Linked DNA regions of Homo sapiens. The protein of the gene in region 1 interacts with the protein of each later gene in a pairwise test. Each region holds a gene or a part of one and is shown in the gene's direction. Other genes may lie near its edges.

Evidence for each region.
Region 2: the proteins of DNM1 (region 1) and CEP126 interact in a two-hybrid assay, tested with the Homo sapiens proteins (one large-scale study listed by BioGRID and IntAct).
Region 3: the proteins of DNM1 (region 1) and PIN4 interact in a two-hybrid assay, tested with the Homo sapiens proteins (one large-scale study listed by BioGRID and IntAct).
Region 4: the proteins of DNM1 (region 1) and NOSTRIN interact in binary tests that used the Homo sapiens proteins (3 or more experiments, as listed by UniProt).
Region 5: the proteins of DNM1 (region 1) and PCNT interact in a two-hybrid assay, tested with the Homo sapiens proteins (one large-scale study listed by BioGRID and IntAct).
Region 6: the proteins of DNM1 (region 1) and SNX33 interact in binary tests that used the Homo sapiens proteins (3 or more experiments, as listed by UniProt).
Region 7: the proteins of DNM1 (region 1) and ASB13 interact in a two-hybrid assay, tested with the Homo sapiens proteins (one large-scale study listed by BioGRID and IntAct).

The regions. Positions count from the first base shown.
Region 1 is NC_000009.12:128,220,379-128,223,878, forward strand, and holds part of DNM1 (dynamin-1), read left to right. Parts: intron 1-1,818; coding exon 1,819-1,961; intron 1,962-2,082; coding exon 2,083-2,218; intron 2,219-2,414; coding exon 2,415-2,482; intron 2,483-3,500. UniProt on the Homo sapiens protein: Catalyzes the hydrolysis of GTP and utilizes this energy to mediate vesicle scission and participates in many forms of endocytosis, such as clathrin-mediated endocytosis or synaptic vesicle endocytosis as well as rapid endocytosis (RE).
Region 2 is NC_000011.10:101,984,149-101,988,582, forward strand, and holds part of CEP126 (centrosomal protein of 126 kDa), read left to right. Parts: intron 1-2,683; coding exon 2,684-2,893; intron 2,894-4,434. UniProt on the Homo sapiens protein: Participates in cytokinesis. Necessary for microtubules and mitotic spindle organization. Involved in primary cilium formation.
Region 3 is NC_000023.11:72,187,765-72,192,198, forward strand, and holds part of PIN4 (peptidyl-prolyl cis-trans isomerase NIMA-interacting 4), read left to right. Parts: intron 1-4,434.
Region 4 is NC_000002.12:168,805,264-168,809,697, forward strand, and holds part of NOSTRIN (nostrin), read left to right. Parts: intron 1-4,434. UniProt on the Homo sapiens protein: Multivalent adapter protein which may decrease NOS3 activity by inducing its translocation away from the plasma membrane.
Region 5 is NC_000021.9:46,330,265-46,334,698, forward strand, and holds part of PCNT (pericentrin), read left to right. Parts: intron 1-4,132; coding exon 4,133-4,434. UniProt on the Homo sapiens protein: Integral component of the filamentous matrix of the centrosome involved in the initial establishment of organized microtubule arrays in both mitosis and meiosis. Plays a role, together with DISC1, in the microtubule network formation.
Region 6 is NC_000015.10:75,653,902-75,658,335, forward strand, and holds part of SNX33 (sorting nexin-33), read left to right. Parts: intron 1-3,060; coding exon 3,061-3,314; 3' UTR 3,315-4,434. UniProt on the Homo sapiens protein: Plays a role in the reorganization of the cytoskeleton, endocytosis and cellular vesicle trafficking via its interactions with membranes, WASL, DNM1 and DNM2. Acts both during interphase and at the end of mitotic cell divisions.
Region 7 is NC_000010.11:5,649,076-5,653,509, reverse strand, and holds part of ASB13 (ankyrin repeat and SOCS box protein 13), read left to right. Parts: intron 1-459; coding exon 460-647; intron 648-2,146; coding exon 2,147-2,297; intron 2,298-4,405; coding exon 4,406-4,434. UniProt on the Homo sapiens protein: May be a substrate-recognition component of a SCF-like ECS (Elongin-Cullin-SOCS-box protein) E3 ubiquitin-protein ligase complex which mediates the ubiquitination and subsequent proteasomal degradation of target proteins.

The DNA.
Region 1 (3,500 bases):
GCATGAAAACAGGATAAATTAAGTGTGTTCTGAGAGTGAACAGCAGAGGTTAGCCTCTCCGTAGTGCAGATAGACAAACTGAGCCTCAGAAAAGCAAAGCAACTTGCCCACAGCCCCACAGCTAGGTAGCAGCAAAGCTTCACTGACCTTTCCCTGTCTGGGACCTGCCAGGGAAGCCCTGGAAGTCCCCAACACAGAGAAGGCCAAGACCTATGTGGAGGGTGTCATGGGGAAGAGCTTGGGTTTGGGGGCCAGGATTCAAGTATACTCGGCTGAAGACCTTGACAGGGAATCCCAGGGGCTTCCCCAGGACTTTTCTCCATCTGGAATGGGGCATCCAGAACTGAAGTGCGCGCGCGCGCGCGTGTGTGTGTGTGTGTGTGTGTGTGTCTGTCTGACTGTCTGTCTGTGTAGGCAAGACCTGGTTTCCAATCCCAGTTTTGTCACTCCCCCTCTGAGACACTCTCTCTGGCTCTCTGAGCCTCTATTTCTTTTTTCTTTATTTGTTTTCTTTCTTTCTTTCTTTCTTTCTTTCTTTCTTTCTTTCTTTCTTTCTTTTCTTTTCTTTCTTTCTTTCCTTTCTTCTTTCTTTCTTTCTCTTTCTTTCTTTCTTTCCCTTCCTTCCTTCCTTCCTTCCTTTCTTTCTCTTTCTTTCTTTCTCTCTTTCTTTCTCTCTTTCTCTCTTTCTTTCTCTCTTTCTCTCTTTCTCTCTTTCTTTCTTTCTCTCTTAGATGGAGTTTTGCTCTTGTCACCCAGGCTGGAGTGCAATGGTGCGATCTCAGCTCACTGCAACCTCTGCCTCCTGGATTCAAGGGATTCTCCTACCTCAGCCTCCCAGGTAGCTGGGATTACAGGCACACACCACCACGCCTGGCTAATTTTTGTATTTTTAGTAGAGACGGGGTTTCACCATGTTAGCCAGGCTGGTCTCGTACTCCTGACATCAGGTGATCTGCCCGCCTTGGCCTCCCAAAGTGCTGGGATAACAGGCATGAGCCATAATCGTGCCTGGCCTCTGAGCCTCTATTTCTGCATCTGTAAAATGGAGACAATGGTGATCAGACCTGTTTCATAGGATTGTTGTAAAGGTTCAGGGAGATACTGTGTGGGGGCACCTAGTGAGCATGAGTGCTAGAACTTGAGAATGACCTTAAAGGAGGCTTTAAACCCAGAGGGTCCAAGGGGCAGCCCTCTGGCCACCCCTGCCTCAGACGCACGTCTAAAAATATTAAATTGGGATGGTATGGTGGTTCATGCCTGTAATCCCACCACTTTGGGAGGCTGAGGCGGGTGGATCACTTGAGGCCAAAAGTTCGACACCAGCCTGGCCAACAAGGCGAAAACCTGTACTAAAAATACAAAAAATTAGCTGGGCATGGTGGTGCACGCCTGTAGTCCCAGTTACTTGGGAGGCTGAGGCAGGAGAATTGCTTGAAACTGGGAGGCAGAGATCGCAGGTTGCAGTGAGCTGAGATCACGCCATTGCACTCCAGCCTGGGTGACGAGTGAAACTCCGTCTCAAAAAAATAATAATAATAAATAAAAATAAAAAGATTAAATTGGCCAAAAATCAGGAAATTCCAAATACAAATCCAGATTTCTGGCTTTATTGAAAATTATGCACTCATTAATTCAACTAATACATCTCTGCAAGCTCCTTCTATGAACCAGTTTTCTTGCTAGTGGCCCGGGCAGCAGTGGCAGGGCTGCCCTCCATAGCTCTCCACCTCACCACGTTCACACAGTCCCCTGGCATCCAAGTCCCTTCCTGGCCCTGTGACCATCTGTCCTCAACCCTTTCCTCACCCTTACCCCCAGCAACTGACGAACCACATCCGGGACACACTGCCGGGGCTGCGGAACAAGCTGCAGAGCCAGCTACTGTCCATTGAGAAGGAGGTGGAGGAATACAAGAACTTCCGCCCTGATGACCCAGCTCGCAAGACCAAGGCCCTGCTGCAGTGAGGCTCCCCCAGCTCCTATCACTGAATCCCCGCCCCCAGCCTCTCAGCGTGGGGCTCTCCCAGGGTTCCCTTTGCTGGGCTGCTCCTGCCCCCTCAGGCCACACCACTCTCCCACCAGGATGGTCCAGCAGTTCGCCGTAGACTTTGAGAAGCGCATTGAGGGCTCAGGAGATCAGATCGACACCTACGAACTGTCAGGGGGAGCCCGCATTAACCGAATCTTCCACGAGCGCTTCCCTTTCGAGCTGGTCAAGGTAGGTCAGGCAGCCCTGGGGACAGGATGGCTCAGGACTCCCCCCACCCTCACTCAGGACTCTCTCTGCGTGTGTTTTTGCTGGCCCCCACCCCACAGGCCCTGATGCCCAGCCCTAGGTGTGGGGTGGGCCCTGTCTTGACCTCCCAGGTAGTAGGACAGGCCCTGACCAGGCTTTTCTCTGCTTTTCTACACAGATGGAGTTTGATGAGAAGGAACTCCGAAGGGAGATCAGCTATGCTATCAAGAATATCCATGGCATTAGGCACGTATTGGGGCCTGGGAGGGTGGCTGAACCCCAGAAGTAGGGGGTCTGGGACAGAGGCACAGGGAGTGATGAAGTGGGCCTCCCTCAGGAAGGACTGAAAGCTCTGTTCCCCAGTCCTCTCGACCCCAACTTTCTGGCTCCCTGCATGACAGGCTCCAGCTTGGGGAGGTGGACCCGGGCCACCCCGCCTACTGCAACTTGCTGGGCCAACTGGGCACAGCCCAGGGCGCAGGTGGCCGGGGAAACACCCTCTGGGGCTGGGCCCATCCCCAGGGTGAGATAGCTCCCCCAGTGCCACCCAGGTAACCGGACAAAGATGTCCAAACCACTACGAGGGCCTGGGGTGGAGCATCTAAGTATGAGGCTGTGTCCTTTTATGACGGCCGGGGACTTTGCAATCCTCCACACCCTCCTGTATTCACAGTAGCCCAGAGTCAGTCCCATTCCACCCCACCGCCCTCCTTCTAGGCAACCCGTGGAGTAGGAAACAGGATTGGGAGGTGGAATCTGTTCCTTAAAAGCTTAGATCCCCTTCAGGGACCCAGATCTATGCTGTGTTCATCCAACAAATCCACTGGGCCGGAAAATTTAAAGCACCTACCCTATGCCAAGCAGTGAACAAGACCCAGTGTCCCCTTGCTCTCATGCAGGTTCATTTCCAAGATTTGGCATGGAATTTACTTCCTGATAACTGCACTGGCCAATTCACAGAAAAAAGATCTCTTTCCTAGTCTTAAAACAAAACACTCTATTCCTGGAAAGGCTCTTATGGAGAACCACGTTTGGCAATTTTCAAGCCATTTCTGGCCATAGAACTTCCTATATGCACAGACCCTTACGAGGAAGCAGGACTTACATATCAGATACTCAACCACCTTGTCTTGCCCCAAAGAGCCTCATTAGGGCCGGGCGCGGTGGCTCACGCCTGTAATCCCAGCACTTTGGAAGGCCGAGGCAGGCGGATCATGAGGTCAGGAGATCGAGACCATCCTGGCTAACACGGTGAAACCCTGTC
Region 2 (4,434 bases), on another chromosome or scaffold:
AACACTTTCTTGAACAGCATGCCAGCAACAGTGAACAGAGATGTGGATGTAGAAGGTTTTCAAAACGAGTTTAGCATGAAAGATGCCATACATGCTGTTGCAAACACTTGGAACACAGGGACTAAAGACACAATTGTGCATTCCTGGCACAACCTCTGGCCTGCAACTATGTTCAGTGATGATGAACAAGGTAGTGACTGAAGGATTCTGTATGTCAAGTGAGAAAAAATTATGTCTGACCTCATTACGTAAGCAAAAAAATATACCTTCAGAGTCTATCAGTAAGCTGGAAGAAGTGGATATCAAAGAGGTTATTAACATCGATAATAAGACTCCAGGTGTTTTCATTGACCAATGATGAAATAGCCAAAAGAGCTCTGAATTAAGATGATTGTGATAATAGTGATGATAATGGCATTGTTAACACTGAAAAAGAAAAAGGTGCCAATTGACAATATGATGAAAATGTGTGATGGGTTTATTGAACGACTAGAGCAGTGTACACTCATAACAACAAGAAATTATGTCAGTTTATAAAATCAAAGAGAGGCTTATAGGACAAAAAAAGACATTGTAAATGAGGCAAAAGTCTCTGGAAGAAACATTTTTTAAGGTCATCTAGCAGAATATTTCCTCATCCCTAGAGGACCCACTTCCTTGTGCCTCAGCTGCTTCTGATGTTTCTTCTCACCTAAAAAAATAAAATACAGTGTACAGTAACCATCTGGTCAAAATGTAACATAATACCTAAGATTGGAAGCCTGCCATTGTTCCTTGTTGCTGTTGTTGAACAGCCGACACAGGTATTCTGGTGATGTTACTGTGGTGCTTAGTTGCCCTGAACACATTATTTTCTGACAGTGTGAAGGATACATCTTATTTTTTACTGTTAAGTACTTACGTGTGAATAGGTGTAAGAACATTATTGCTTTTCAGTAGATATAAATTTGGAGTCAGGAATAACAGTGATACCAAACAACCACAGATAATCCACATAGGTTGCTGATACAGTGATATCTTTGCTTTCTGATGGTTCAATATACACCAACTTCATTTCATGGACAAAATTATTTAAAATATTATATAAAATTACCTTCAGGTATGTGTATAAGGTATATATGAAACATAAATGAGTTTCTTTTTTTTTTTTTTTAAGCAGAGTCTCACTCTGTCACCTAGGCTGAAGTGCAATGGTGCAATCTTGGTTCATTGCAACCTCCGCCTCTCAAGTTCAAGCAATTCTCCTGCATCAGCCTCCCAAGTAGCTGGGATGACAGGCGTATGCCACCATACCTGGGTAATTTTTGTATTTTTAGTTGAGATGAGGCTTCACCATGTTGGCCAGGCTGGTCTTGAACTCCTGACCTCAGGTGATCCACCCACTTCGGCCTCCCAAAATGCTGGGATTACAGGCATGAGCCACCGCATCCAGCTGAGTTTCATGTTTAAACCTAGGTCTCATCACCAACATATCTCATGTGTATGCAAATATCCAAAATTCTAAAAAAGTCCAAAACCTGAAACATATCTAGTCCCAAGCATTTTGGACAAGGAATACTTAACATTTACAATAATGAAAAAAATATACAAAAGTGTTGCTCTTCAGAAGTGTAAAGTCTATTAGGGAAGACTGGCTTTAAATAAACATGTTTTATTTAGTCTTTTCTTACTGATGTCTCCATTACTTTTAAGCTTTGTCAAAGAACCTTCCCAATACAGACATTTAGAAACATTTGTTTCATTTTCTTCTGCTTTAATTAATGGGTTGATTCCTTAAGTTTGTCTTTAATTTCTTACGAATTTGTTTAAACAAACAGTGGGAAGTAAAACTCTGAATTGATTTCTTTTTTTTTTTTTTTTTTTTGAGACAGAGCTCCAGGCTGGAGCACAGTAGCACAATCTCAGCTCACTGCAACCTCCACCTCCTGGGTTCAAGTGATTCTCCTGCCTGAGCCTCCCAAGTAGCTGGGATTATAAGCACCCACAATAACACCTGGCTAATTTTTGTATTTTTAGTACAGACGAGGTTTCACCATGTTGGCCATGCTGGTCTTGAACTCCTGACCTCAAGTGATTCACCTGCCTCAGCCTTCCAAGGTGCTGGGATTAGAGGCATGAGCCACTGCACCCAGCCCAAATTGATTCTTTTATAAGCAAAAACTAATATGTAAAATCATCTTTCCCTTCTGTCAAATATTTGATGCTTCTTTGATCACATGTTCTTATATCTAATTGGGTCTGTTTCTAGGCTGTCAGTTCTGTTTAGCTGATCATCAAAGTTTCTAATCTTAAGGGTTTTTTGGTCTTACTTTGTTATAATTCATTATAACTACTATTATAAAGACAGTCTTCTTCATCTTTTTTGTACTACCAATGAATAACAAACATGACAAAAACTATCTGCATTATATAGTTTTTTTCTTTAGTTCAAGTAATACTCTGGGAATTTTTATTAACTCACTGCCGTCATTTTGAATATCCTTTTTTAAAAAACGAAGGATAGGAAAATGCTAGATAGAGGATCCTGATAAATGAAATCAAAGTAGCAGATATTTGCTAGGTTTCTGCTTGTAATATGAATACATACAGACAGTTAAGCATGTATAAGTATATGTAAGTATATATAAGGGCTGATCTCAAAGACAAAAGGGGTTCAAAGAATAACTGATGTAAGTTTCTGTAGTTTCAGATAGTACTTCTGAGTTTTTGATGGCTGAAAACTTAGTGAAAGCATCAGTGCCGGAGGATGAGATTCTGACTGTCTTGAATAGCAAACAGATACAGAAATCAAATCTACCTTTAAATAAAACTCAACAATTCAACATCTGCACACTGTCAGCTGAAGAACAGAAGATCCTAGAGTCCCTTAATGATCTCAGTGAAAGACTACATTGTAAGTATGGAAGAACACCTTTTATAAGAAATACTGCATTTATACTTAGACAATTTTAATTTAAACTTTAATTTAAAAATTGAAAAGAAAAATACAAAATATATCCATATTACCAACTACCTGAGTGCATAACCATTCAGACTATATTTGAATACTATTTCAAGTATGCCATATCATTTATGATGATGTCAACTTCTTTGGCAGACTTATCTGTCTTTTCAGAATATATGAATAGACTTCTGTTTCAGCAATGGACAGGCTACATATCTATACTGACCATCCATCAAAACAACCATAAATCCTTGATTAAGTATTTTTTAAACCTGCAATATAGTGATGAGCTAGTAAGAATGTAAGACATTCTTAAGACCAATAACTAAATGTAGATAAGAACTCAAAAAGATAAGGAGAGTGCAGCAGCTAGCTCTTGTCCTGAGGATATTTAACTCATGGGGTGAAATTGAACTTTGCTTTCCATGGCCTCATAGGAAAAAGGGAACAGGCCTACTCAGGATGAGTAGTCTCACAGAAGATCTTTCCACCATAAAGCTGGGCCACCCGAAGAGCTGTGCACTACACATGCATACACAGAGGAGGCAGCGCAGGGAGAGGGAATTTTTTTCTAAAAAAAAAAAAAAGGCTTGCATTTTTTAAACTTCAGTATTGAGCAGGTGATAGAGGAAAAATGATCCCTGAGAATGTAGAATCACAGTCTAATACAAGTATCACACTAATTTACAGCCCATACTCACATTAACTGAATAGTTCTTAAGATCTCAAGCAAAGAACTTAATTTAGAATGATCCCAAACTGGTAGTATTCCAAAACACTTGGGAAAAGTACATTTATGTATCTTCTGCACCTATATTCCAGTCCTCAAAGAATTATCACAAGTGAAATCCAAGGAAAATGAGCAGCCTACAATTAAAAAAAAAGTAAATAACTTAATCCGTAATGAAAAAAGGCACCAAGAAAAAAAATCAAAAGAATCCACAAAACAGAATAAACAGACCCAGAAAGGATTCAGATAATGAAATTACCAGGCACAAACTATAAATAACTATGCTTGTATGCTCTAAAGTTGTCAGAAATAAGCTTTAAAATGCAGAAATGCAGTCATTTTTAAACTTAAACATGCAGGGAATAAGAAACTATAAAGAAAGAGCAAACAGATTTGAAAAATGGCCCAAATAGAATGCCTGGAAATTGAAAATATAATAATTGAAATGTAAAATTTAGTAGGTGGTTTAACCACCAGATTACAGACGTCTGAACAGAGAATTAGTAAACTAGATTATGAATCAAAGAAATTTATCCACAGTATATCTTAGAGAGACAAAGAGATGGAAAATATGATATAGAGCTTAAAAGACACAAAAGAGTAAATAAAAAGGTCTGAAAGGCTAAGACAATATCTAAAGTGATAACGGTTGACAACTTTTCCAATTTGATGAACAATGCCAATCTACAGATTCAACAACCCAACACATTTCAGAGTAAATAAAAAGAAATGACCACTAAGATACATCCACAATGAATGT
Region 3 (4,434 bases), on another chromosome or scaffold:
TACACTCATCCTATGCAACAGAGCGAGACCCTGTCTCAAAAAAATAAATAAAAAGTAAGAGATGGTCCTTGTTATCACAGGCTACTTGGGAGCAGTTAGGTAAAGATATGTATTTCATTGCTGTATGATAAGCATAGCAGTGGAACTGCATCATATAAATTCAGCCATACATGTGTAGCCTAAAAAAGAGAGATCATGTAAATGGTGTGGACTGTTCTGCCCACTCTTCTATTCAATGAACCTATGCCCCACAGAGAGAGAGAGAGATGAGAGACATGCACCTGCTTTTCTATAGTTGCCCTGAATTCTTGTGTGAGCATCCAATCATGTGAAGTGGGGTTCTGGTATCCAAAGATAAGTTTTCATAAAACATAGCCCCTAAATACAACCCAGTTACTTCATGTTACAAACGGAGTACAGCGTTCCTGGCTATGTCTGGGCTTAAATGAGAGCTGACATGCTGGTCTCCCATATGACATCTTCATAAAGGGATATTCTAGGGTAATTTTGGCTATATGCAGTTTTCACCTAATATGTTTTCACAAGCATCTAACCTAAGAGACTGTTGCACTGCATATGGCTTTAGCTACTTTTTTTTATTTTTTTTTTTGAGACGGAGTTTCACTCTTGTTGTCCAGGCTGGAGTGCAATGGCACGATCTCGGCTCACTGCGACCTCCGCCTCCCAGGTTCAAGCGATTGTCCTGCCTCAGCCTCCCAAGTATCTGGGATCACAGGTGCCCGCCACCGCGCCCAGCTAGTTTTTTGTATTTTTAGTAGAGATGAGGTTTCACCATGTTGGCCAGGCTGGTCTTGAACTCCTGACCTCAGGTGATCCATCTGCCTCGGCCTCCCAAAGTGCTGGGATTACAGGCATGAGCCACCGTGCCTGGCGGCTTTAGCTAATTTTTTAAAAACTTTGTTTTGTTGTTTTTATCTTTGTAGAGATGGAGTCTCGCTATGTTGCCCAGGCTGGTCTTGAACTCCTGGCCTCAAGCGATCCTCCCGCCTCAGCCTCCAACAGTGTTAAGATTATAGGGGCATGAGCCACCACACCTGGTGCATGTGGCTTTAAAGAGGCACCTTACCCTCTCTGGAAAAAAAATAAGTTCAATGTGGCCACTCATGAGATATATGGAAAGGAGTGGCACGTTATTCACTAGGAAAGTAGATTAGGGTTAAATTTGTTTTTATAAAGCCTTTTATTTTGAGATAATTATAGATTCACATGCAGTTTTAAGAAATAATACATCTAGCTGGGCATGGTCGTGTGTGCCTGTAGTCCCAGCTACTTGGGAGGCTGAGGTAGGAGGATTGTTTGAGCCCAGGAGTTTGAGGCGGCAGTGAGTCAGGATCACGCCACTGCACTCCAACCTGGGCAACAGAATGAGACCTTGTCTCTAAAAAAGAAAAAAAGAAAAAGGAAAAGAAATAATACGTATTCCTTTGTTTCTCCCAATGGTAACACCTAACAAAACTATAGTACAATAGCACAAACAGGATATTGACATTGATGTAGTCAAGATACAGACAATCCTACCACTACAAGGATCCCTCCTCTTGGCCTTTTATAACTATACCCGCTTCCCTCCTGCCCCACCTCTGCCCTCTTAACCCATGGCAGCAACTTATCTGTTCTCCATTTGTGTAACTTTATAATGTCAAGAATGTTATATGAATGGAATAATACAGTATGTAACCTTTTGGGATTGGTTTTATTCACCCAGTATAATTCGCTGGAGATTTCATTCAGGTGGTTTTGTTTATCAATAGTTTATTCCTCTGTATTGCTAAATAGTACCAGTTGAGTATCCCTAATCCAAAAATACAAAATACAAAATGCTGTAAGATCTGAAACTTTTTGAGCGCTGACATGACACTCAAAGTAAATGCTCATTATAGCATTTCAGATTTTGAATTTTCAGATTAGGGATGCTCAACTGGTAAGTTTAATGCAAATATTCCCAAATCCGAAACACTCTGGTCCCAAGCATTTTGGATAAATGATATTCAACCTGTATCCCATGATGTGGAAGTGCTGTAGTATGTCGAACCATTCACCTGTTGAAGGACAGCTGGGTTGTTTCAAGTGTTTTTTGAAGGCACCAGTCGGTGAGGGACCCTGGGACCCTCTGGCCTTTTAGGGTTCAGCTCCTTTCACATTCTGTCATTCTGCTTCAGACCCCACCCCTGTGCCCACACCCTGCCCTTTTGTCGCTATAAGCTCTGCAGATTCTGAGACCCATCCACTGACCACAGCTTCCCTCCTTCCCCTTCCCTTCCTGCCTCCGCCAATCCTGTTCCTCTGTTCTTCTCCTCACAGACCCCCAAGCCCTCAAGCCCACCCTAATCTCCCCACTTTCTCCTAGGCTTCATGTTTGTTTTCCTATCCCCTGCACACTCAAAATTAGGCCTAAGGGCTTGATCATTGGATTGAGGAGGTCCAGTTTTTCTTTTGGCCACCTCCCTGCATCCACCTCCCTGCTACTCAGGATCAATCCAATGGTCTACTTTCTATGCACTTAAAATTAGATCTATAGTTAGAAGAGAAGAATTCGAGTGGTTCTAGTATAAAGAAAAGACAAATATTTAAGGTGATGGATATTCCAAGTATACTGATTTGATCTTTACCAATTATATGAATGTATTAGATTATTGCATTACCTTGAAACTGTACATCTACTATGCATCAATAAAAAAGAAAGGAAGGAAAAGAAAAGAAAAGAAAAGATTTCCTTGAAAACGTCTAGCTGGGGGCAACTTAAATATTAATACTTGATTTTTAATAAGTATGTAAATAAAGTATTTACTAATAATTCCAATATGAGTATTATATTTGCTTATAGATGAACTTATTTCAGTAGCTTGGCTCAAATTTGAAACAGTTACTTAAGAAAGAAAAATTCAGCCGGGCGCCGGTGGCTCATGCCTGTACTCCTGGCACTTTGGGAGGCCAAGGCTTGCGGATCACCTGAGGTCAAGAGTCCAAGATCAGCCTGGCCAACATGGTAAAACCCCGTCTCTGCTAAAAATACAAAAATTAGTCGGGTGTGGTGGCGGGTGCCTATAATCCCAGCTACTCGGGAGGCTGAGGCAGGAGAATCACTTGAACCTGGGAGACAGAGGTAGCAGTGAGCCGTGATCACACCACTGCACTCCAGCCTGGGCAACAGAGCGAGACTCCATCTCAAAAAAAAAAAAAAAAGCTCCCCAGAACTGCTGGGCCCTACTGGAAAGTCACACAGCCTTGGGGATTGGGACTACTAATACTTGGTCTCTGACTTTACCTAGGCCCTCAGTGCTGCTCAGCAATCCTTTACCGCCCACCTGTAGCCATCCACCACCCCACTCCCATCAGTCAACAGAGAACTTCATTCCATGGTTCTCAACCCTAGACGTACATCAGATTCGCCTAAAAAAATACGAGTGCCTAGGGTCTCATCCCAGACCAACTGCATCAGAATCTCTTGGAGGGGGGCCTGGACTTTGATAACTTTTTTAGAAGGGCTGGGCTCTGTGGCTCATGCTTGTAATCCTAGCACTTTGGGAGCCCGAGGTGGGTGTATCACTTGAGGTCAGGAATTCGAGACCAGCCTGGCCAACATGGTGACACCTTGTCTCTACTGAAAATACAAAAATTAGTTGGGCATGGTGGCATGCGCCTGGAATCTCAGCTACTCGGGAGGCTGAGGCAGGAGAATCACTTGGACCCGAGAGGCGGAGGTTGCAGTGAGCTGAGATTGCGCCACTGCACTCCAGCCTGGGCGACAGAGTGAGACTCCATCTCAAAAAACAAAAACGAAAAACTTTTCTAGAATTTCTGGAGGTGATTCTAATATGCTGCCAGGGTTAAGAAACACTCATCTAGTCTCACAGCGTTAGTGTGAGGATTTAATGAGATAAGTACTCATCAACTTTTAAATGTTTTTATTATTTTAACAAGAAAGTGGAAACCAGACCCATTGTCAGGAACTCATTGGCTTTCAGCCCCCTAGCAACAAAGTTACCTCCTCACCTTTTTTCCTTTAAGGCTAATTTTTCAAACCGTGTTCTGAATACCAAACCTTGCTCCTTCATTTATCTCTACCCTCTTTTTTGTTCTGTCTTCAACCGGTTTTTTTTTTCCTAGGTCTTTCCCTTCATTCCGAAAATATGCCCAGGGACCTTTAAAATTCGTGGGTTTTTTTGTTTTTGTTTTTGTTTTTGAGATGGAGTCTCACTCTTGTTGCCCAGGCTGGAGTGCAGTGGCGCGATCTTGGCTCACTGCAACCTCCATCTCCCAGTTTCAAGCGATTCTCCTGCTTCAGCCTCCCGAGTAGCTGGGATTACAGGCATCCACCACCACTCCCGGCTAATTGTTTGTAGTTTTAGTAGAGATGGGATTTCTCCATGTTGGCCAGGCTGGTCTCCAATTCCTCACCTCAGGTGATCCGCC
Region 4 (4,434 bases), on another chromosome or scaffold:
AAGATTGCCTAAATGCTGTGTAGGATTAATCTTGAGAGTGTCAGAACTTATTTGAAAAAGATATCTGTAAGATATCTTTAAAGTTCTGTTTTTGACAAGGAAAAGAATTGGCTCTGGGCCTTGATGTTTCATTGCCTATGAAGGTTTAGGTTTAGCTCTTAAACCTAAAAATATGTCTAGGGAACTCATCTTCAAATCCATGTGCAAGAAAGGCGAAGTAAGATCCAATTATCTCTAAGGGAAAGAATCCAATCATAAGAAAGTATTAATAGCACCTTCCTATCAAACAATCACATAGAAATCAAGGACAAGTAACAAGCTGTAGCCAAATTTTTGCTTTTTACACACTCATACAGTATCCAGGAAGGGGTCTGTCAAAGCAAGTCTTCTGGGCGCCACACAGTCAGCCCCTCCCCGCATGTCATCGGCCATTGAAATGGCACCAGGCTGCTCCTCAGGTTGGTAACCTGGCTCAGATGCCAACCTGAGCTTCCCATCTTGGTGGCTTAGCCTGGATATCAGACAATGACTGTCACTAACTCAGATGGTGCCGGTGCCATGGTCCGTAGCTCCTAGGAGAATCTGACTCGCTGCAAAAATACAGAAGGAGGCTGCATATGGCATGGGTGTCACGTGGCCCACAGCCTCCCCAGTGTGCATCAGTGAGATGTGTAACATGCCATTCCACATTTCTTGGACCTCTGTTTCCTTGTGTGTAAAGTAAAAGGAGGAAAGGATGGAGTAGACTATGCTCTTTAATGTTCCATATCCCGTAATCTATGACAGTCTGCCACAGGGATTCCAAATACTACGCAGATGGTGAACAAGTACATGGAATCCCTTCAGAGAGGGGCAGTGCTTTGAAACATCACCCCCAGTGAATCAGAACTCACATGATATCAGTAGCACAGTGCCTGGCGTAGTAAAGGCAGTCAGCAAAGTTCATTGTGTTAAATTTAAGGGGAATATCATGGTTTCTTTAACACTGTGAGGATCATCACTAATCAAAAAAAATCCTTCTGTACTAGCATCAATAAAAATAAATTTTTCTATAACTTTTTCTAGAACTAAATTTAACCCTCTTAATCATTCAAGCAGAAAGAGCAGGTGGGCCAAGCTTGATATAGGCACTTTATAATCTTTACAAGTCGCCTGTCTAAACATTTCATGTGCTGACTGGCTGGATTACTAAATGTTTTTTGTAATGGCTATATTTATCAACAGAATTTGCTTACAAGTGCTGGGAAGAAACATTTTCCTAATGGCCGAATGGGAAATGTCTGTCAAATAGACCAGTTGTCTATTTGAGAAGGGGTTATTATTTTTTTAGGGGCTCAGGAAGATCCCAGGTATTCCACTACCAGACTGAAATCCCTTTATCAGGGGAGAAAAACCTCATCGTGTTTTTTTCCCCAATAATTAATGGTCCCCAGGAGAAGCAGCATATTAATATGAATTCATATGGAGATGTAGAATCAATAGTAGATTATTCCCTGGAATGAATATTTGATAGGGGGTTAGGATATTTAAAAGCTCAATGGGTAGGAAAAGAACACCAAAATTGCCTTCCACCTGACTGCACTTCTTCTCAGCAAGCTCTTCTTCTTGTGCTGGTTAATGACATCAAGAAGCCAGCTGTATTGCACATAACACTTAAAGGCTACTATAACTTGGAGTAAACTTACTGTGATTATACAGATTAGCCATTTATAAATGTATTTGTTTCTGATGGATTCTCTAATTGATTTTCATACCTAACATTTCTAATCACAACTCTGTCTCTAACTAATTAGGTTATCCTTATCTCTTTGGGTCTTAACTGTAAATAAGGGAATTAGACTTTGGTGGCTTGCAAACTGTGCTCCATGGAACCCTTTCAGAGTCCTCTCTGGTGGGTGGGAGTGTGGTGAGGTAGGAGTGAGACAACCAAAACTAAAGTCAAGTGATTTCACCCCCACAAAGCAGGTAAGTTCCAAGATTTTCTGAACACACACACACACATACATACACACACACACAGAGAGAGAGAGAACTATATGGTCTCTGGAAGTCTGCTGTAGCATTTAAGTGGGTCTGCTTTTCACAGTTTTTGTCTCCAAGTCTCAGTAGATGGTACATAATGAAAAGTACAGAATGATTGATTCTAAATAAGGGTTTATGCTGGGATAATGAAAATATTCTTAGCAAATCTTTTATTTATTGATGTCACCTTTATCTCAATCTGGATCAAGGTTTGTTGGGGGAATTTTTGGCGTATAGTATATAGGATCAAGGGTAAAGATTCTCTCCATTGCTCTTGTAAGCACATCTCTTATCTGATCGCTAAATTAACAACAAGTATGAAGATCTTCTCAACTTGCATGTGCCTGGGCATACTGGCGTTTGAGGTTTGAGGGTGGGTTACAGGTGTACCTTAGACACAAATCCTCTGCACCGTTGAATTGGCAGAGTATGGCTGGGAGCGAGGTACGAGGCAAAGCCATGGGCCAGTTCCCTCTTCCTGGAACAATTTTGTCCATTTACCACACTCTACCAGTACAAATATTTGCTATGTGCACCATTTTGGGACAAAAGTTAGAAAGTACTGGTCTATGAAATGACAGAAAATCATCTTCCAAAATCTAGACCTGGTAGCCCATGGGTCAATGGAAGCCATAGACTGTGCTTTGGTCCAGCAGCCCCTTACTTTAAGAGGTTGAATGTGAATGCCTTTGCCACAGGCTTCACCACTGCCACTGAAGGCAATTGAGTTTTCAATCACTGGCTTATAAACTTTCAGCATGGCCTAGCCTCCTAAAACTAGTTCCCTTGAGACAGTATTTAAAAATGTGTCTTAGGGAGTTTTGATGGCTTGATAAGTTTAGGAAATGCAGCAGCCCCTGTAACCCAAGCACATAGAAAAATTCTCAACTGGTTCTACTCATTTCTACATTGGTTATGAGCAGAGTTTTCTCTACATGCCCCCATTCCACGCTTGATGTCCAGGGTCCCTTGTTCTCTCCCATAGGTAACTTCTATGTGCAGACTATCCTGTGGTGATGGTGGACTGGTAGGGCCTTTCCCTTAGGACATTTCATCTCAGAGTCCCTTCCTTCCACTCCTGCTTCCCCTAATGGGAGGTTCTTTTTCTCCTTCCCACTCTAAATCCCTCGAATCCATCTCTCTGCTTTCTTTTCTCCCATCCTCAGCCCCAGCTTTATAGTGTGTTTGAGAGCAGAAGAATTTACTCCGTAAACATGCATCCAGGTCTTTCTCTCTTGCACAAGGCCCCATGGCTTTTTGTTGAGTCTTTGTTTCTGCTTTGCTGTGGGCTGGAGAGAAGTCAATAAGACAATACATAAAAATCCATAGCTTAATACTGTGAGATATTTCTAAATAAATCAAATAAGAAAGCCACAGGACCTATAAAGAAAATCATAAAATTTTATTGAACATAAAATAAAATTTGAACAAATGCAAAAACTTACTATGTCCTTGGATAGAAAGTCTAAACACCATTAAAAAGTCAATTTTCCCAAATTGATACATGTATGTAATACAATTCCAATTAGGATCCCAACGGGGATTTAAAAAGAAATGTAATTAGACAAATGTTCATATGTTAGAATAAATGCCTCAGAATAGCCAAATAAATTATGAAAAGGAAAAAAATAGTTGTTTAAAGAGAAAGCAGAAGCAAAGTGTTAAAATCTCTATAACTTAGGTAGTGAGTACATAATGTGTATTATTATTTTCTGTATCATTATGTTATGAAACATAAAAGTGTTTCATAATTCAAAGCAAAAAGACCCTGTATGAGTTAGAACTATGTTCAGCTGCATATTAGAAAAACCCCAAATACATATGTCTTTAGAAAACAACATTGTATTTTTCTTACACATAAAATAAATCCAAAAGTAGAGAGTTGAGGGCTCGTGTGGTGTTCTTCACAGCCATCAGGGACCCAGGCTCTTTTTCTCTTTCCACTCTGTGATCTTAATGCATTATGTCCAATCTCAATACCACTTTATGGCTTTGGCCTTCATTTTCAAGTCCAGAAGGAAGAAAAGAGGGCAAACAAGCCTTTACTGAAACCTCATACAAAACCTTCCCTCACATCTCCTTGGATAGCTTTCAGTCACATGGTTATAGATCAAAGGGGGAGGGAGGCTGAGAAATGACCTTATTTCAGGAGTATGTACCCCACTAAACATTTAGGCATTTTCTTCTCATGACACTGAGGTGTGTTTCATGGGATGCTATTAAGTATTATAGAAGAAAACAAAAGGCTTAGGGAGAAATCTAGTGGAAATGTTTAGGTAACATAGGAGTAAACAAAGAGGTTAAACAAGTTTCTTTACTGCAGGTCTTCTCACAATTTGAAAATACTCCCTTAAACTTTCCCAGTGTGCTGTAAGGGTAGGAAGGAGGCCTTAATAGTATCAGACCATTCAT
Region 5 (4,434 bases), on another chromosome or scaffold:
GTGCCACCATACCTGGCTAACTTAAAAAAAAATTTGTAGAGACAGTGTTACACTGTGTTGTCAGGGCTGGTCTCAAACTCCTGTGCTCAAGTAATTCTCCCACCTCGGCCTCCCAAAGTGCTGGAATTATAGGTGTGAGCCATCCCACCTGGCTAAAATTTATTTTCTTTATACATGTATAGGTAAACTAAGTAGTATGTGTAGAATAGAGCCATTGTCTTTCTGCTGTACACTAAGTTAGGAATCAAATTTCTTAAGCCATTTTGTCAATTATGTATATAAAAACCATTGGTGCTTTAGAAGCAGATATTTCATTAACTTTTTTCTGATTATATCATTGTACATCATCAGTTCAGTCTAAAAAGGAGTTTTTTTCATATGTATTATAAAATATTTCATGATATTTGAGTTTAGTATGCCTTTAATCCAGTTGTAGATGTTAAAATAGGAGTAATTTTGTGTTCAAAATAATGATCTTCTGAAAAGTGAAATTCTAGGAAAGAGTCCACTGTTTAAAGCTAGCAGCTGGTGGCCGTGTGGCCGAATAATGTCCCAGGCCAGGGCACTCCCCTCTCAGATGGTTGGTCATGCTGCGTCGGAGATCAGGAATCCTCAAGGAACCTTTATGTTATAGTTGTACCAGTGCTTTAAACATAATGAAAGGTGCATTTGTTTTATTTTACCCATCTATAAATTGTGAGAGGTTTGGCTATGGAGAGTCTAGTGAGCTTATTGAACAGCATAAGAAGATAAGTGTGTGTGTTTGTGTGTGTGTGAGAGTGTGTGTATGTGTGTGTGAGGGGGAGGGAGAAGTTATTGTGCTTTCCAACATATAATAAATTGCTTACTTTGATCACTAACTGTTAGGTAAATACTGATGATTTCTAGCATAAGTCTTTTTTCTTTTTTTTGGAGACAGGTCCTCCCTCTGGCGCCCAGGCTGGAGTGCAGTGGCCCAATCAGCTTACTTCAGCCTTGACCTCCCTGACTCAGGTGATCCTCCCACCTCGGCCTCCCAAAGTGCTGGGATTACAGGCATAAGCCGCTGTGCCCAGCTGATATAAGACATATTTTTAACCAACTTTAAGATCTTAGTTTTTTTTCAGGATGGTTATAAGCGAAGGTAGAATTGCAGAAAGACTTTGTGGTAAATATTCAGGATTCGGCTCTGTTGCCTTACAATTTGTTAAGTGCATGATGGAAAAATAGTTGAAACAATGCAACAGCTGTCTCAGTTCTGAAAGTTAACTCAGAAATGGCAGAAAGCAAGGTCAGGCATGGTGGCTCCGAGCACTTTGGGAGGCCAACGTGGGAGGATGGTTGAAACTCTGTCTCTATGAAAAATATAAAAATTAGCTGGGCATGACAGTGCACACGTGTAGTCCCAGTTACTCAGGAGGCTGAGTTGGGAGGATCACCTGCGCCCAGGAGTTTGAGGCTACAGTGAGCTATGGTGGCACCACTGCACGCCAGCCTGGGCGGCAGAGCAAGGCCTTGTCTCAAAAAAAAAAAAATCATAAAAATAAAGCAATGGTAGAAAGCAGAATTTGACCTTTCAGTTACAGATGAGGAACAAAGTGAGGAGAGGCCATTTTTTGGTAAAAGAACCATCTGGCGGGACGCATTGGCTCATGCCTGTAATCCCAGCACTTTGGGAGGCCAAGGCAGGAAGATCACCTGAGGTCAGGAGTTCGAGACCAGCCTGGCCAACGTGGTGAAACCCCATCTCTACTAAAAATACAAAAATTAGCCGGGTCTCATGGCAGGCGCCTGTAATCCCAGGTACTCGGGAGGCTGAGGCAGGAGAATCACTTGAACCCGGGAGGCAGAGGTTGCACTGAGCCGAGATCGCGCCATTGCACTCCAGCCTGGAGGACAAGAGCGAGACTTTATCTCCAAAAAAAAGAGAACCATCCAAAAATTGCTCAGAGGTCAAGAATTTCAGAAGAAAATACAAAAACTTTGGCTGAAGAAGATTTAACTAGTGCTATAGAAGGCTTAAGAAGTGTGGTTCTAGCACTTTTCCAACTCATATTTGTATCAAATACCAGGAAAAATAGTTATCACCATTTATCATCTAGATTTCTGGGCCGTTTTACTGTTTTGTCATTTTAAGTTGTTTTACACGTAATTTACAGAAGTAAGAATAAAGCAATAATTTAAAACAACTTTATAAGAAATTTGATCCAACCTCTTTGTATCAAGTAAGTTTTGACACACAAACATTAGAAGTGTCCTCTTAAGGAAGTGGATGGTCCAGGTTCCTTTGAAGTGTGATCATTCATGTGAGCGGGCAGCTGATTGAGACTACTGTGTCCCCTTTTCGTCCCTCACTTCCTCTTGATTCTGAGAAGATTGATCTAGGGTATTGTCAAATGAAGACTTGTCTGAGATTTTATTTTCACGTCAGTTTTGCCATCATCATTGGCCATGGGTGCTCTCTCTCTGCATTCATCTTGTGACTCATCTAATGATCCCGAAAAGTCGACACTGTCATGTTTCTTTGCTATTTTGGGAAGAAATTGAAATGTTCTTAGTGAATCATCTTGTTAAAGCAAGCTAATCTGGGCACTGTGGCTCATGCCTGTATTGCCAGCATTTTGGGATGCTGAGGTGGGAGGATTGCTTGAGCCCAGGATTTTGAGGCCAGCTTTGGAACATAATGAACAGAGACCCTGTCTCTACAAAAAAATAAAAAATAAGCTGGGCACAGTGGCGCATGCCAGTAGTTCCAGCTACTCAGGTGGCTGAGGCAGGAGGATCACTTGAGCCCAGGAGGTTAAGGTTGCAGTGAGCTGGGATTGCACCACTGCACGCCAGCCTGGGTGACAGAGCAAGACCTTGTCTCAAAAAATTAATTAAATTTCTTTTTTAAAGTAGAATTCATGGCCGGGCGCAGTGACTCACACCTGTAATCCCAGCACTTTGGGAGGCCGAGTTGGGCAGATCACAAGGTCAAGAGATTGAGACCATCCTGGTCAACATGGTGAAACCCCGATTCTACTAAAAATACAAAAATTAGCTGGGCATGGTGGCACGCGCCTGTAGTCCCAGCTACTCAGGAGGCTGAGGCAGGAGAATGGCGTGAACCCGGGAGGCAGAGCTTACAGTGAGCTGAGATTGTGCCACTGCACTCCAGCCTGGGTGACAGAGTGAGACTTCGTCTCAAAAAAGACAAAAAAGAAAAAAAAAATTAGCCGGGCGTGGTGGCATGCGCCTGTAGTCCCAGCTACTCGGGAGGCTGAGGCAGGAGAATTGTTTGAACCCGGAGGCGGAGGTTGCAGTGAGCCGAGGTCATGCCACCAGCCTGGGCGACGGAGTGAAACTTTGTCTCAAAAAAAAAAAAAAATTACAGGCTGGGCACGGTTACTCACACCTGTAATCCCAGCACTTGGGGAGGCCGAGGCGGGTGGATCACCTGAGGTCAGGAGTTCAAGACCAGTCTGGCCAACATGGTGAAACCCCCGGGAGGTTGAGACAGGAGAATCACTTGAACCCAGGAGGTGGAGGTTTCAGTGAGCCGAGTTCGTGCAACTGCATTGCAGCCTGGCAACAGAGCAAGACTCCGTCTCAAAAAAAAAAAAAAAAGTAGAATTCATTAAGAAGAGGGGCAGGAACATCATTAGGGAAATTACTTGCATTATAAAAATGTTTAGAGCTGGCCAGGTGTGGTGGCTCATGCCTGTAATCCCAGCACTTTGGGAGGCCAAGGCGGGCGGATCACGAGGTCAGGAGATCAAGACCATCTTGGCTAACATGGTGAAACCCTGTCTCTACTAAAAATACAAAAATTAGCTGGGCGTGGTGGCGGGCACCCATAGTCCCAGCTACTAGGGAGGCTGAGGCAGGGGAATGGCGTGAACCCAGGAGGCGGAGATTGCAGTGAGCTGAGATTGTGCCACTGCACTCCAGCCTGGGCGACAGAGCAAGACTCCGTCTCAAAAAAAAAAAAAAAAATGTTTAGAGCTTGGGAATTGTTAATGCGGAAGGTGCACGTTCTGAACAGGTGGAAGTGAGCTCTACTTGTTAAATGAAGTCAGCACAGGCCTGCAGATAGAGGAGCTGGGAAGGGCCTGAGGCTGCAGCCCTAGACCTTGCTTTAAATGCTTCTTTCTGGTCCTCCCCTTCTTAGCCGGAGGACTGTGATGGAGAGAAGAGAGAGGACTTGGAACAGCTGCAGCAGAAGCAAGTCAATGACCATCCTCCAGAGCAGTGTGGGATGTTCACAGTCAGTGACCACCCACCAGAACAGCATGGGATGTTCACAGTCGGTGACCACCCACCAGAACAGCGTGGGATGTTCACAGTCAGTGACCACCCACCAGAACAGCATGGGATGTTCACAGTCAGTGACCACCCACCAGAACAGCGTGGGATGTTCACAATCAGTGACCACCAACCGGAACAGCGTGGGATGTTCACAGTCAGTGACCA
Region 6 (4,434 bases), on another chromosome or scaffold:
GCTAACATAGTGAAACCCTGTCTCTACTAAAAATACAAAAAAATAGCCAGGCATGGTGGCAGGTGCCTGTAATCCCAGCTACTTGGAAGGCTGAGGCAGAAGAATTGCTTGAACCCAGCAGGCGGAGGTTGCAGTGAGCCGAGATCAAGCCACTGCACTCCAGCTTGGGCAGCAGAACAAGACTCCATCTCAAATTAAAAAAAAAAAAAAAAAAGAAAAGAAAAGCAGTTTTCAAGCCATAACATGTAGCATCTGGAGCTTCTATTGTATCTCAGGTGCGCTCCTTTGAACTGTGTACATATTAGTTCAGTTAAGCCTCAACTATACTATAGGGCAGGTACTATTATTATCCCATTTTACAGATGTGGAAACTCCTTAAAGCACTATACCGTGTGAGAGGTTGTCAACAGCATCACATCTAGTGCAACCTGTCCCACTGGGCAGTGGGGAGACCTGGAGCCCAGGCAAGAGCAGTGGCTTGCTGGAGAGGATACAGCTAGGACTAGGACTCAGACCTCCTGCTCCCTCCTGCCCCCAACCTGGGGTGGATGTTAACTGTCTCCAAGAGGCAGGGGCAAGATGGATTGAGGTGGGAGCTTAGGGAATATCCCTGGGACTTGCAGCTGGTGGGCTCCAACCCTCCTTTCTGCATTTTTGGGACCCAGCCTGTAAGAGGAGTGCTGAGGCAGGAGGTCCCCCTGGGTCCTCAGCTCTCAGGTTAAGTCTTAAGTAGAATGTCGGGGGGATGCTGGACAGGCCTGAGCCCTGACTCCCAGCCTGTGGGGTGGGGTGCATTAGCATTAGCTGGTCCTGGCCCCAGAGCTGAGTCACAGGGTGGAGGGGTAACGGAGAACAGGGTGGGGCCTCTGTTTCCCCCCGACCTCTGCAGCCTTTGCTCCCCATCCCTGGCCTCCTGCCTGTCTGTGGATACCTAACCATTGCAATGGGTTCATTCTTACTCTTTGGGCTCCTCATCAGCAAAAGAGGCCTTTCCTTCCTCTAAGGCCATGGACAGGAAAAGTCTATAGATGCACTTCCACTGTGCCAACTTTCTCGGCAGGTGGAATCCAGGCTAGTTCAGTATCTCCTCTTTAGCTAGGTTCCTTCTGCGGAAGTTTAACTCCAGTTTCTTCACCCTGCTGTTTTCTACCTTTCTTCTTACGGTTCTTCCTACTCCTTGGGACCTTCTTGAATCCCTGTGTCCAACGTCTGGGGGCCCCACACATATGCCTGAAGGACCTGGCATGGGCTCCCTGCAGCAGAAGTGGTGTCCGACCCCCAGCTGTGGAGGACCAGGCAGGAAAGAGGCTGGGAGTCCTGGGCAAGTTCCTGCCCCTCAGGGCCTTGGCCTCCTCTGTACAGTAGTAGGATGGAGGTGGAATCGAGGGTTGGACACCTGATCTTTTGGGCCTTTCTAGCTCTGAAGTCTCTTACTGGGTCCTATCCTGGGCCTTGGGGTGATCCCCCTTCTGCTGCCCAGGGCTGGGCTGTTGAGATGGTGCAGGAGGTGGTCCAGGGAAGGTGGCAGAAGGACTGAGTGGGCTGGGAGCTGGGGAATGCAGATTTCTTTTGGGCGCTGTGTGAGCAGCCCTGGAGACTCTCTGAACTTGAGTCTGTTTGCCTGAAATGCTACTATTAGCCGATTAGCCATGCACTTATCAACTAACATGGATGTTGCCCCTTCTAAAGGCATCCAGAGTTATTCCCAGCATGTAGAGCCCTGGGCCTGATATACAGTAAGTGCTCAATGAATGCATTTAGAATGCACTGGACAATTTGAGCCAGGGAGTGAAGAGAATATTATCTAGACAGCCCTCAAGAGCCCTCCTTAAAGGAGAAGTGGGAAAGCATGGGTATTGAGCATGCTATCTGTGTGTAGTGGGTGCGTTTGCAGTGCTCAGGGGTGTGCTGTCCTCTATGCCAACCCTTCCCTGCTCCTAATCTTCTTTGTATGGTGGATTCTCTGCAGCCCTCGGCGACTGAGTGCCAGGCACAGGCAAACTTCCTTCTCTTCCCAGCAACTGTCCCCACTGGCTTAAAGGCAGAATTCGTCAAGTCCCTTTTAATTCAGAACTGAAATTCATTCACCAGCTGCTTGTTCATTCATTCAGATTCTTCTAAATTGGGTCCTCTGCCCAGGTTCATCTCCACCCCCCATCTGTCACCTGGTTATTACACAACCTCCTCGAGTTCCCTGGGGGCTGGGATGAGGAGGGAACAGGGCGTGCATGTCTGGGAGATACACCAGGTGGCCTTTGAAGAGTTGTTTTAGAATCAGCAGTGTGATGGGGGTGGGGGTGGGGAGCCAGGGCACAGGTGACATGGGAGAGACATTCTGTCAGGGGAACTGGGAGAGGCTCCAGTGTAGAAGTGGCACCTGATCGGGGCCATGAATTATGAATAGGAATCCAGGGGGCAGAGGTAGGAAGGTAGGAAAGAGCCAGGTGAGTTTGACGAACATGGGGGTCAGTGTGGAATGCGTGCAGGGGCCAACTCCCAGAGGTGAGGGCCCCCCAGGCCAGGCAGATTGGTGTGGACCTTGATCTGTAGGTAGTGGAGAGCTAGGAAAGGTGCCCAGCTTGGGATACCTCTTTAGATGCTGCAGAGAACCTGTCAGAGGCTGGGGCGGAGGGCAGGGAGACGTGGCGGGGCTGTTGTAGCAGTCCAGTGAGGGACAGGGTTGAATCAGTTCAGCAGGCCTATATCAGGATCTGCTGTGGGCCAGGCCTTGTTCTGGGTACCAGAGACACAGAGAGGTTGAGGACAGGCTCTATCCTCATTGAATTCATAGTCCATCAAGCAGGGCTGTGACTGGTCACATGTGGGCTACTGGTGGCACTGCACATTTGGAGAGAAGATGATGTGCTTGGTTTAGGAGGTGCTGAGGGTGATGGCTTGGGTAACATCCTGGCAGAGACACCCAGGTGGCTGGAATGTGGGTCTGGGGCTCAGGAATGACGTCCGAGTTGAGCTGATGAGGGTGCTGTCTGCCCTCAAGGGTACAGGGAGCACATGGAGATCAGAGCCCTCACACGCTGTCCTCTGCTCTGCCTATGCCAGGCGCCTTCGCCAAGGTGAAGGAGAGCCAACGCATGAGTGACGAGGGCCGCATGGTGCAGGACGAGGCAGACGGCATTCGCAGGCGCTGCCGCGTGGTGGGTTTCGCCCTGCAGGCCGAGATGAACCACTTCCACCAGCGCCGTGAGCTCGACTTCAAGCACATGATGCAGAACTACTTGCGCCAGCAGATCCTCTTCTACCAGCGGGTGGGCCAGCAGCTGGAGAAGACCCTGCGCATGTATGACAACCTCTGACCGCGTGTGCCTGGGCCCCCTCCTTCCCCTGGGCCTGGTCACTGCAGTGTACCCCACTTTCCCGACCTCCCTATACCAGCAGTGACTGGGGGAGGGGTCAGCGGTGGGGGAGATAAGCGGCCTGTCCTGCCTCCTGGGAGAAGGAGCTTTCAAGGAGTCATGGGTGCCCCTGGGAAATTCCCCACTCCTTAGAAGTGGGGCACAGCAGGGGTGAGAATAGAGTCAGGAGCCCTCGAGGCCAAGGCCTGGGCTGCCGGTCAGTCAGTGAAGGTCAGGCCAGGGTCTCAGCCTCCCCTAGAGCCTATTTTGCTTGCTCACCTGGCCACTGCTGCCTTATCCATTCAGCAGACACCGAGGCCTGCTGCACCCTTGGGTCGGATGCTGGGCACCCAGGGCTGTGACATGCCTGCTCTTCAGGAGTCCTCAGTGAAGGTCGGGGTCAGACACAGACAGAGTCAATGCAGTATGACTGATGTTTAAGTGAGGGATTTCTGGAAGCTCATAGAAGGGACCACAGCATTCCACTGGTCAGGGAAGACTCCATAGAGTAGGCAACATTTGGGCAGTGTTTTGAAGAATGACAAGGGCCTGCCAGACAGTACATGGGGGAGAAGGACTTTCAGGGGAGAGGAACAGCATGGGCAAAGTTATGGAGGCATGCAAACATCTCCCTCTTCTCTCCCTTACTTTCCAAGCAAGTTAGGTACGCTTTCCATGGGGATTCTGGCCTGTGTGGTAGGAAGGGATCTCCCTTGCTCCCATGTTGCTGGCTGTCCGTACATCACCCTGTCCCCTGCAGGAGGGGGCTACAGGCCATCTCCCTCCTGTAGGCCTCTGACTCCCCTCCACTTTTGGGCCCTCAGCTTATCTCGGGCAGGGGACCATTGCAGCATCCTCCCCTCCTCGGACTCAAGGTGCTGAGGTATAAGCCCTGGGCCCCAGATCCCTGGTGACACCTTCCTGGAGAAGACTCTCAAAAGTGACTGTATATTTGAGTTCACCAGCAATAACTCCCCACACTCGAAGCAGGTCCAAACCCAGGATCTCAGGGTCCTTGGGCTCTGTGGCACTGTCTTCCCAAGATCCTTCCTGTTGCACAATGGGAAACCTAAGAGGAAAA
Region 7 (4,434 bases), on another chromosome or scaffold:
CAGGGGTCTGAGCGTGTGTGCGTGAGCATTGTGGGAAGTGTTTCCCAGAGAAGTTGTTTTACCTGGGCCCACCTGGAGGATGTAAACGTTTCACCAGGAAATTGCAGAGTGGACAATTGGCAGGGGGGCAAAGGTGGGCATGTCAGCAGAGAAGGATGTGCAACTGCAGGGGAGTGGTGAGCACCTGTGCCTGCAGAATATGCAGGGGCAGGGGTGGGAGGTGGACTGTGGAGGTGAGCGGGGTCCACAGGACGGAGCCCCTTGTAGGCCTTGCCCAGGAGCTTGGACTCCAGCTGTCAGGCAGTGGGGGTGGCTCAGGGATCTTTGTAGAAGTGCTGGGACAATTGCATGATCACGGATGGTGCCTTGGTGGCATCAGGGACCCTGGAGTCTTACGTGTGCTCATTTGTCCTGGATGGAAGTGGCAGGGTCTTAGCCTGAGGTCCCCTTCCTTTCCAGGTTTCTGGGTGGAGCGGACCCCTGTGCACGAGGCAGCCCAGCGGGGTGAGAGCCTGCAGCTGCAACAGCTGATCGAGAGCGGCGCCTGCGTGAACCAGGTCACCGTGGACTCCATCACGCCCCTGCACGCAGCCAGTCTGCAGGGCCAGGCGCGGTGTGTGCAGCTGCTGCTGGCGGCTGGGGCCCAGGTGAGTGGCCCTTCAGGGCAGACCCCCAGACTGGCTGCAGCTGCCAGAATGGAGGAGGTTGACTCAGGAGAACTTGGGAAAGAGGGGAGGATGGGGGCTGCACTGTGTCCACTGCACACAGGTACCAGGAAGCCCATGGCTGAGAAGTGCTCGTGGACCTGGCTGTTAGGAGGTCACGGTGGTGGAAGAAAGGGCAGCCTGAGCAAATTGATGATGGGAGTGCCAGCCCTGTGGTGGGCAGGAGCCAGCAGGCTGGCCGCAGCCTAGACACAGGCTCTCTCAGGGGCAGCCAGGCCTGGGTGCAGAGCTGCTGCTTGGGCCCAAAGAGCAGGTTTCCGGCTTTAGGATAACTCAGTGGGATGCTGGCCAGCCAGCTCTCTGAAAAAAGGAACAAAAACAAAACTGTGTTGCTGCTTTCCCTGGTGTAAATGTTCCCACCCTGGCTAGTATTAAGCCACCGGGGGTTTCTGGTCAGCAGAATTCCTGGCACATTGGCAGCCAGCTCTCCCGAGCTGGCAAACACTGGCCCTGCACACCCCTGGCCAATGTATAAGTGACACAGGGACCTGGTCTCAGAGTTCAAGGGGTGAGGAAGAAGGGAAGACAGTGTACTGTTTACTCTTCCCAAAAGGTTGGAATGGAACCGATTTCAGTGTGTACCCAAATAGAATTTGAATTTGGACAAATGCTAAATAAAATTTGCCAATTTGGGGAGTTGCCTTTTTCCTGGCCTCTGACTTTCTCACTAGGGGAGGCGTGGTAAGCTGTCTCAGGCATTCCTTCCATTGAGGTTAGAGTTTTGTGTGTGTGTGTGTGTGTGTGTGTGTGTGTGTGTGGTTTTTTTTTTTTTTTTTTTTTTTTGAGATAAGGTCTTTCTCTGTCGCCTAGGCTGGAATGCAGTGGCGTGATCATAGCTCACTGCAACCTCATCCTCCTTGACTCAAGTGATCCTTCCACCTCAGCCTCCTGGGTAGCTGGGACTATAGGTGCATGCCACCAAACCCAGCTAATTTTTGTATTTTTTGTAGAGACAGGGTTTCGCCATGTTGCCCAGGCTGGTCTTGAACTCCTGAGCTCAAGTGACCCTCCCTCCTCGCCTTCCGAAGTGCTGGGGTTACAGGTGTGAGCCACTGTGCCCAGCTGAGGTTAGGGTTTTTAAAACTCATTTTTAAAGCCTGCCTTTCCCAGCTTGCAGCCTAGGGTTCCCCTGTCCTGCTCTGTGCTTACTAGGTGTTTGGGGCGGGGGTGGCGAGGGGGCTGCTGAGCTTATCCTGCCCTGAGAGAAAAGAATCCTGAACGAGATGACTTCTCTACTCAGGAGGCCGTCGGTGCTCCGCAGCCACGTGCTATCTCTTTCAGTGTCGTTGCCTAGCACATAATAGCAAAGCAAACCGGTGCTTCTAAGAAGCATCTTAGCAAAGATGAACCTGCAGCAGGATGGGAAAGTGGGTTGCGTGGCATTTCTCTGCCCTTTGACACTTGTTTCTTCCTCCCGTGAGGTGGATGCTCGCAACATCGACGGCAGCACCCCGCTCTGCGATGCCTGCGCCTCGGGCAGCATCGAGTGTGTGAAGCTCTTGCTGTCCTACGGGGCCAAGGTCAACCCTCCCCTGTACACAGCGTCCCCCCTGCACGAGGCCTGCATGAGCGGTGAGTTGGCAGACGGCTGGGCTGGCCCAGCTGGGCTCTGGAAGTTTCCTCCTTTCTGGGATTAAAGGGACTTAGGGAAGGAAGCAGAGTAGACAGAATTGGGAGCCCTTGGCTGGTGAAGGAGAGTTCTGAGTCTGTTTCTGGCTCCTGGTGGCTCAGCTGCAGAGATTCTAAGCTTTCCCTTCTTGAGGTCTTCGTCCAGGGCTGGGGTGGGTGACTCTAGGGTAGGATTCTGTGTCCAAGCCAGGGTTCCCTGGGCCTCTCCACGTTAGCAGGGCCTGGGGGACTCTGCAGAGGCTCACTTGGGCTTTGCTACAGTTTGCTCTGCAGGCCCCTGATTGAGATGGGAGACGACAGAGAAACGTGTCCCAACAGCCTGGGCCAGGAGGCTGTGCGTGGTGCTCTCAAAACAGTGCTGGTCCTGCAGGCTCAGGGAGCAGGTGGGACCTCATCTGCCCCCCAAGAATAGGCAGACTGCAGATGCTGGGAAGATAAAAGGGCACCCCGAGCATGGGGAACATTCCTTGTCCTATCTTACTGCATCAGAAGCTCCCAGTGGAGCAGAGAGGACTGGAATTTAGGGTGAGACCAGCTGGTGGGAAGATGTTTAAATGACAGACTAAGGAGTTTAGATTCTACTCTTTCGAGCAGAGGTTGCAAACTGTGGCTTATATCTTGACCGGCCAGCATGGCCTTTGTCTTTGGATGCACATCTGGGGTGCAGGGTATGGGGTATGTGCCCTTCCACGGTGCTGGCAGGGCCATGGCTGCATGTGGCTCACCCCTGATTCCTGCTCGTAGGTCTTTCCATGTCTGCAGGCCATGGGACAGCTCCAGGGAGCTCTTGAAGGTTTCTGAGCAGATGTCGAGGGTCAGGAAAACAGAATTTGGGGAAGGTTCATTTAGTGGTCCTCCATGTGCAGATAGACGGAGGTGCAGTGGTGGCTGGGGTCTCCTGGAAGCAGAGGGATGAGTTGGGGACCATCGCTGAGATCAAGGTGCCCAGTGCTCAGAGTAGGCTGGTGGAGTGGGATGGTTTCATTTAGTAGGGTTGGGGAAGGAATCCATAGGATTTCGTATGAAGGGGAGGCTCAAGAGGTCAGAAATGAGTCAGGTTTGAGTCAGGAGCAAGGACCCCAGGAAAGGGAGAGGGCTCTAGAGTGGGAGACACCGGCCGGTGGCCAGCACATGGCTCTGGGGCTGGGGCTGGGTGTGAGGCTGGTGGGGAAAATTAGGGAGCTGCCAACAGTGAAGAGGTAATTGAGTGAACGGAAAGGTTGGAGCCTAGACGGAATGTGCAGGGGCGGGAGGATGGGGGGCCTGGAACCCCGCTCCAAATCCGCATTACAGACCCAGGAAGAGGAGCCACTTAAGAGGCAGGAGAGGCCGGGCGCTGTGGCTCATGCCCTTGGTAATCCCAGCACTTTGGGAGGCTGAGGTGGGCGGATCACCTGAGGTCAGGAGTTTGAGACCAGCCTGGCACATGGTGAAACCCTGTCTCTACTAAAAATACAAAAAAATTAGTCGGGCACGGTGGTGCATGCCTGTAATTCCAGCTATTTGGGAGGCTGAGGTGGGAGAATCGCTTTAACCCGGGAGATGGCGGTTGTAGTGAGCTGAGATCGCACCACTGCATTCCATCCTGGGCAACAGAATGAGACTTTGTCTAAAAAAAAAAAAGAGGCAGGAGAGGCGGCTGCCGTGGTGCACAGGAGGATGACCTGCATAAGAAAGTCTGGGGGGTTTCCTGGGAGGCTGGGCTCAGTGCTGACAGCCGCAGGTAGACACAGGGCAGGGGGGCAGCGGGGGAGTTTTCCCTGACCCATTCTAGGTGGTGCCCCATGTCTTCTGTTCTCACAGCAAGAAGCCGGCCAGGCCCGTTTCTCCCACTGCCTTGAGCCCTCCGTCCTCAGCGGGGCGCAGAGCCGTGTCCTGGCTTCCTGAGGGCCATGCGGGTCATGAACTCCTCCCTAGGTTGGGACGCAGGCCTGCCTGGCTTCCCTGCCCTGCACCAAGGATGGAGGCTGCTGCCCCTGCCGCGTCTGTGTGCTTGTTGTCTCCAGTGTCCGTATTCAAGGACATTCCCCCCCTTTTCCATTTATCTTAAGGGAGTTCCGAATGTGTGAGGCTTCTTATT